Homo sapiens: one gene and its partner. The protein of the gene in region 1 interacts with the protein of each later gene in a pairwise test. Each region holds a gene or a part of one and is shown on either strand. Other genes may lie near its edges.

Region 1 (3,807 bases):
TTTAAGCTTAGAAAGTATCTATTATCAAAAAATATTTTAAGCATCCGATAGCCATTTTCTTATTATAGTCACGAAACAGCCCCATGCTGGAAATAGAGCAAGTATCATTATCCCCATTTTATGGGTGAAGAAACAAACGCAGAGATAGTCAGGGACTTGGCGGCTGATTTGTGACAAAACCAGCATTTGCTCTGCCCCCGGGTTCCGGTGCTCCCGCTGGGCCCCACCCCAGGCCAGCCGCTCTGCCTCTGTGTAGACAGCGCCAAGCAAGGAGGGACTTGGTGGAGTGCTCACCAGCTTAACTACCAATTCGGAAAGGAAACAAAGGCAGGAAAGGAGGTGGGCTGGTGTCTTGGGAGCCCGAGGCCAGGATGGTCTCCCCAGGACAGGGTGAGTACTTGACACTTCTCCAGTTCTTTTCCAGATTCTTCCCAAGTCCTAGAGAGCACTCCCGGTCTCTTGATCTCCTTGGGTAAGTGCAAGAAAAATAAGTAATCATCTACTACTTGACACTAAGTAATCAACAAATTGGCTAGAGGCCTCTCTGGTGGACACAGGGACACAGGTGGTCACATCAGGCCCTAAATGCTGTGTAAGTTGGAGGCCCATCAGTGGCATGGCTTCCAAAGGAATGGCTTGGTCAAGCCTTTACCTATTGCCATCTAGACGAATTTTTTTTTTTTTCAACAGAGTCTTGCTCTGGCACCCAGACTGGAGTGCACTGGCACAATTACAGTTCACCGCAGCCATGACCTCCCGGGCTCAAGAGATCCACCTGCTCCAGCCTCCCAAGCAGCTGGGACCACACGCATAGGCCATTATGCCTGGCTAATTGTTGTATTTTTTTGTAGAGATGGGGTTTCTCCATGTTGCCCAAGGTACTCTTGAACTCCTGCGGTCAAGGGATCTACCCGCTTCAACCTCCCAAAGTGCTGGGATTGCAGGCAAGAGCCACCGTGCCCAGCCTAGGGGAAATTCTATGGGAGAAAACTGAGCTGGCCTAGGTCCTAGCCAAATGACTACCTGAAGGAGGACCGGGGGCTGCAGTTTTGGCAGCAATCCAGTGGTGGGGGGAGGCGGGGGCTCCCAAACCCCGGGACTCTCCCCTGAGCTCCCAGCACAAGCCACTTCCTACAAGCCCAGAACTCCAGGCCAGACTTTGTCTGCACCTGTTTGAGCTCAGAGTACAGTCCCTGCTCTAGAAGCATCCAAAAATATCTGAGAGAGCGGGGAATAGGGAGGGGCTATCTGGAAGAAAACAGGCTAGAGTCTTCAGAGGGCTGAGAGAAAGAGCCACTTGGCTCAGCATTCAAGGTTCTTCCCAACTGGCCCCAACTCATCAGGGTGGCCTAATCTCCCCCGAACACGAGCCCCACACTCTAGCCAGAGCTAGTCTCATCCTGTCCCTGGCAGTGCCGTGCTCTGAGCTTCCTCACCTCCTGGCTTTTGTCACCATCTTCAGGTGTCTCTGCCTGCACAAATCATCTGTCATTCATTAGACCTTGTTGACTGCCTTGAATGAGCCAAGCGTCATGCTACACTGTTCGTGATGAAATACGGGCAAATTAAACAAAGGCACAGCTTCCACCCTCCCCAAGCTGACCGTCCAGCAATTGTCCCCTCCCTGCACGTTGGGCTGAAACCCTGTCCCTCTGCACAGCCAACCTTCCCAACCATCTTCTGAACTTCAACCAGAGTGAGCATAGACTGCTGGTGGGGGGGTGTTAGTTACATTTTTTTTTCAGTGCGTGTCATCTCCCCAAATAGAAGGTCAGCTCCTGAGGGCAGAGACACAACTCATTCCCGCCTGCACAGTGCAGCTGGCCAGGACCTCACAGGGCTGACAAGGGGCTGAGAGATGGGCCTCACAGGGAGGGACCCACAGCTGCCTTACACCTCTCCCTGCTCTCATCAAATGCCCCACTCTCTCTGCTCCCTGCAGTCTCTGAGGCATCTGAGTCTGAGATTGTGCCATACCCTCATGCTTCTATTTGATCCTTTTGTGCCTTCATCCCTAACCCGAGTCCATCCTGCTTTTCCAGCCTAAAGGGGGACTCCCTTTAGGGAGCATCTCTCATTTCTTCAGGATTTGGCACCCAATCTCTCCTCTCCTGCCAGGGCTGGCCATGGCCTGCATTCATTCTGTGTTCTCTCTCTCTTTTTTTTAAATATGGGGTCTCGCTCTGTTGCCCAGGCTAGAGTATAGTGGTACAATCTTGGCTCACTGCAACTTCGACCTCCTAGGCTCAAGCCATCCTTCCACCTCAGCCCCCTGAGTAGCTGAGACCACAGTGTACCCACTACATCCAGCTATTTTTAAAGTTTTTTTGTAGAGACAAGATCTCACTGTGTTGCCCAGGCTGGTCTGGAACTCCTGGGCTCAAGCAATCCTGCCGCCTTAGCCTCCCAAAGTGCCGGGATTACAGGTGTGAGCCACTGTGCCTAGCCTATTAATTAAATTTAATAAATTATTGCTTTAATTCTGATTTAATTTGGTGCTTTCATTCTGATTCTGCCACCTTCCCTGAGATGGGGTGGCTCAGCAATTGCTGCTCTGGGAGTCCCTCTGTGACAGACAATGAGGAAGTCACAGGCAACAGGCATGTCCCCAAGGTAGGGGGGCAGCTGGGACCTTGACTCCGAGTAAAACCACCTTCAGGGCTGCAGAGGGATGAGGGAGGCTGAAAATAGATGGAACAGGACTTCTCTGATATTAGAGAAGGATGACAGCACAGGCTGCCGCCATCGAGGAAATGAATCAGTCTCTAGAAACTCAGTTAAATCCGTCCCATTTGCTAAACTGCACCCACCCCTGTCACGTCCTACTGAGGATACCCAGCTAGGGATGAGCACAGGGGACTGGGACCTCTCGAGCACTGGGCAGATCATGCTTAGCAGCCGTGCTCGCCATGGCTCCAATTCATTCATTCATTATTTCACCCATTCAGGACCCAGAAGAGAAACCCCTGCTATGTAGCTCAGTCCCTCTGCGCTCAGAACCGGTGAACTATTTACCACCTCCGTGTTGAGATTTAGGAACTTTGGGTGAGACCTTGCCTGCCAAATGGGAAATTCCATCTTAGAGATATCTTCCTTGAGCTGAAATCTTCTGAATCCTCTGAAACACAGACAGACTTGAGCAAAGTGCCCATCTGTGCTGCGAGTCACCAGCCTCCACTGCAATGAGCTGCAGCTCCCCCCATGACCAGTGTCTTGGTAGCAGGGACAGGGGTCGGAGCAGGGGCCCAGCCTGAGTAGGGAAGGGAGACCCAAGAGGGAATGAAGGAGCCAAATAGGGCGGAGGCAGACTCTGAAGATCAACTTTTAGCTCTAAGAAGACAGGTGAGGCCAGGGGCGAGGTCCCTGAGAAGACAGGACTCCCAGAGCAAACTCGGGAGAGAACAGAAGCCAGCCCACCACCTTGAGCCAAAGTGAGTCCTCATGCCAAAGTGAGTCCCACCAATGGGACACGAGAGGGCACAGGCCTCACAGCCAGGAACACATCATGAAGGGGACCTGAGGCTGGACTCCCATCCCCAGTCCACAAAGAAGAATGAAAACCAAAGTCAGCTGCGTGCAGTGGCTCACACTTGTAGCCCCATCACTTTGGGAGACCAAGGCAGGAGAATCACTTGAGCCCAGGAGTTTGAGACCAGCCTGAGCAACATAGTGACATAGTGAGACCATGTATCTACAAAAAATAAAATTAGCTGGGTGTGGTGACACATGCCTGTAGTCCCAGCTACTCTGAAGGCTGAAATGGGAAGATCACTTGAACCCAGGAAGTTGAGGCTGCAGTGAGCTATG
Region 2 (3,807 bases), on another chromosome or scaffold:
TCCTCAGCCAGAGCCACTGCCCCTTTCCTCAATTTACCTCTTTTGTGGCATGTCAGCAAGCATTTCTTAGGTACCCAACGGGGCCAGGTGTGCCTGCCCTGGTATCACTGTTTCACAGGACTTGCAGAGGACTCCCCCCAGGGACTTCTTGGGGACCCGTCTTGTTCCCCCTGGGAGGCCTACCTACCTCATTCCACCTCAGACCCCCCTCTAGTTCCCCCTCGGACACCCTCCTGTGCCCCCCTCGGACACCCGCCTGGTTCCCCCACCTGACACCCTCCTGGTTCCCCCAGCGGACACCCTCCTGGTTCCCCCAGCGGACACCAGCCTGGTTCCCCCACCGGACACCCTCCTGGTTCCCCCAGCGGACACCAGCCTGGTTCCCCCACCGGACACCCGCCTGGTTCCCCCCTCGGACACCCGCCTAGTTCCCCCCTCGGACACCCGCCTGGTTCCCCCCTCGGACACCCGCCTGTGCCCCCCTCGGACACCCGCCTGTGCCCCCCTCGGACACCCGCCTGGTTCCCCCCCGGATACCCTCCTGGATGCCCCCTCGGACACCCTCCTGGTTCCCTCTCAGAAACCCTCCTGGTTCCCCCTCGGACATCCGCCTGGTCCCCCCTCGGATACCCTGTCTTGTTCCTCATTCCCAGGACTTGACAGCTGCTTCTGCTCATGTCTGTGGTCCCTGCAGTTTCCTGCCAAAGCTCTAAAGGGTGCCAGATGGTGACATCAGGAGAGGCTGTTCTGGAATCTGGAGCTGTAGTCTATGGACAGGTCTTTTTTTAGTACAAGACCTTTCACACAGGTTTCCTGGGTGCCTGGGCCAACTTGGAGGGGCCTCGGCCACAGTGACCTTCACGGCTCTGAGCAGGAAGCCCCGACGTGAGCTTCCCCCGGGGCAGGCTGGCCGGCTGCCTTGAGGCGCCAGCTCAGGAAGGCTTGGCCTCACTGTGCCTCCATTTCCCCCGAAGGCTGGCGATGGTGACTCTAAACATTCAGATGTAACAAGCTGCGTGGAGAAGCAGCCGCCCCCGCCCCCGCCGCTGGAGCAGCCAAGTTCTGGGCTAGTCACGTCCACCTGGGACCTGAGCACGGGACCTTGTCTGTGTCTTTGCAGATGGAAACAAGTGGAGATGAGGTCGCTGTGGTGGCCCTAATGCAGGGATTGAACATGGCCGCACGGAGACGGCCGCGTGAAGACGGAGGCAGAGGCTGAGGCCATGTGGCCACACGAAGAGAGGTGAGGCTCGCTGGCCCCCAGCAGCTGGAAGAGGCAGGACGGAGCCTCCCTTGGGGCCTTCAGAGGGAACGTGGCCCAGCCTGCACCTTCATCTCAGACTTCTGGCCTCCAGAACTGCGAGGGAAATCAATCTTGGTTGTTTTAAGCCAGCCGGGTTGTGAGGGAGAGGCCAGGCGGTTCCCGGATCGTGGCCTGCAAAGCCTGTGAGCTCGGACGGGTTGTTCGGCCTGAGCCTCCGCCTCCATGTCTGTAAAATGGGGAGCTCCATTGTGGCTGCTGTCAGGGGTCGGGGAAAAAATAACCCGGAAGCTGTCAGCCCAGCGCTTGGCGCCCTGCGATATCTGTTGTTAATATCACGATTCTGCCAGGCGTGGTGGCTCACGCCTGTAATCCCAGCACTTTGGGAGGCCGAGGCAGGCAGATCACGAGGTCAGGAGACAGAGACCATCCTGGCCAAACACGGTGAAACCCCATCTCTACTAAAAATACAAAAATTAGCTGGCATGGTGGCACGTGCCTGTAATCCCAGCTACTCGGGAGGCTGAGGCAGGAGAATCACTTGAACCAGGGAGTTGGAGGTTGCAGTGAGCTGAGATCACACCACTGCACTCCAGCCTGGCAACAGAGTGAGACTCCATGTCAAAAAAAAAAAATCATGATTCCTCGTGGTGAGTCTCGTGGCATAGACCTCGGTTGGCTGTTTTTGGCAGTGTGACCTAGGGGAAGCGACTTAACTCTGCTGAGCCTCAGTTTCCTCTTCTGTCCCCCATGGATGGCGACAGCACCTCCCCATCGGGGGGGGGGGGAGGGGTACGAGACCAGGCGTGCACAACGCTGAGTGAACACCCCCACACAGGCAGGTACGTGGACGGGTGCTGGTGCACCCTCCGTGTCCAGATCAACACATGCTGAGGCTATTCCAGAAACGCTGCCCGGCTGTGCAGTTTCACTGGGAGCATTTGGAGAACCTGCTCTGAGGCCAGAAGCAGGCATGGAGAGGGGTTGCTGTGGTGCTGGCGCATGGAGGGGCAGCCCTTGGGGAGGCCCTGGCCGTGGGATGGGACCCCCATCCTCTGTTCTTGCGATGAGGTTCCCTTGGCTGGGCCTCCCTTCTCCACCTGCTCCTTCCGGGCTGGGCTGGGCAGCCGCCTTCCCTGGAATCCACTCCCTGTCCAGGGCCTCTGGTGTCTCTGAGCAGCTGGGTCTTCCCCATCTCTGTCCCTCACTGGCTGACATACAGGGTGGCGGGGCTGTGTGTCACCGGCCTTCCTCCGGGGCCGGGCCCAGCCCGTGCATAGTGGACCTTATTCTTAGTTGCACTCTGTGTGCCAAGACGCATGAGGCAAGGGGCAGGCCTGAGGCCTCAGGAGCTGGGGAACCACCGTGAGGAGAAGCACAGGTTTGAGATCAGACGCTCGGATTCAGGCTGGGTCAGACAGGGCCTGGCCAAGAGGCCGCCAGCCTCGGGATGGACGAGGAAGGGCGAGGCCTGAAGGAATCTTCTACAGTGACAGCTGCCTCTGGATAATTTCTTATTCTTCTCTGCTCTGTGCCCAGATCTGCTCTCCAAGAAGTGACTAAAGCCACAAACACCTACAAGGAAACTCTGACCCAGCACCCAGGAGGCCACGGCTCCTCCTTCTGAGCCAGCACAGTGCAAGGGGTCTCTGCCGCCAGGTCCCACTCCCCAGCTGGGCCCCAGGGACCCTCTGCGCGCAGCCACGCTGACAGGCGGCTCCAGGGGCTGAATACTGTCGTGTGCTGAACTGTGTCCCCCAAATCCATACACTGAAGTCCTAACTGCCAGGACCTTGGAATGCGACCTCACCTGGAAATAAGATCTTGGCGGACAGAATTTGGTAAGATGACATCATACCAGTGTACGGCGGGTCCCTAGAGCAATAACCAATGTCCTTATAAAAAGGGGACATTTGGATGCAGACGCATGCACAGGGAGAACACTGTGTGGATGTGAAGGCAGAAATGGGTGACGCGGCCACACGGCAGGGACACCGAGGGCAGAGATGGGTGACGCGGCCACAGGGCAGGGACACCGAGGGCAGAGGTGGGTGACGCGGCCACAGGGCAGGGACACCGAGGGCAGAAATGGGTGACGCGGCCACAGGGCAGGGACACCGAGGGCAGAGGTGGGTGACGCGGCCACACGGCAGGGACACCGAGGGCAGAGGTGGGTGACGCAGCCACACGGCAGGGACTCCGAGGGCAGAGGTGGGTGACGCGGCCACACGGCAGGGACACCGAGGGCAGAGATGGGTGACGCGGCCACACGGCAGGGACACCGAGGGCAGAGGTGGGTGACGCGGCCACACGGCAGGGACACCGAGGGCAGAGGTGGGTGACGCGGCCACACGGCAGGGACTCCGAGGGCAGAGGTGGGTGACGCGGCCACACGGCAGGGACACCGAGGGCAGAGATGGGTGACGCGGCCACACGGCAGGGACACCGAGGGCAGAGATGGGTGACGCGGCCACAGGGCAGGGACACCGAGGGCAGAGATGGGTGACGCGGCCACACGGCGGGGACACCGAGGGCAGAGGTGGGTG

What was found.
Region 2: the proteins of SRL (region 1) and SGTA interact in binary tests that used the Homo sapiens proteins (3 or more experiments, as listed by UniProt).

The regions. Positions count from the first base shown.
Region 1 is NC_000016.10:4,231,846-4,235,652, forward strand, and holds part of SRL (sarcalumenin isoform 1 precursor), read right to left. Parts: intron 1-3,807.
Region 2 is NC_000019.10:2,769,539-2,773,345, forward strand, and holds part of SGTA (small glutamine-rich tetratricopeptide repeat-containing protein alpha), read right to left. Parts: intron 1-3,807. UniProt on the Homo sapiens protein: Co-chaperone that binds misfolded and hydrophobic patches-containing client proteins in the cytosol. Mediates their targeting to the endoplasmic reticulum but also regulates their sorting to the proteasome when targeting fails.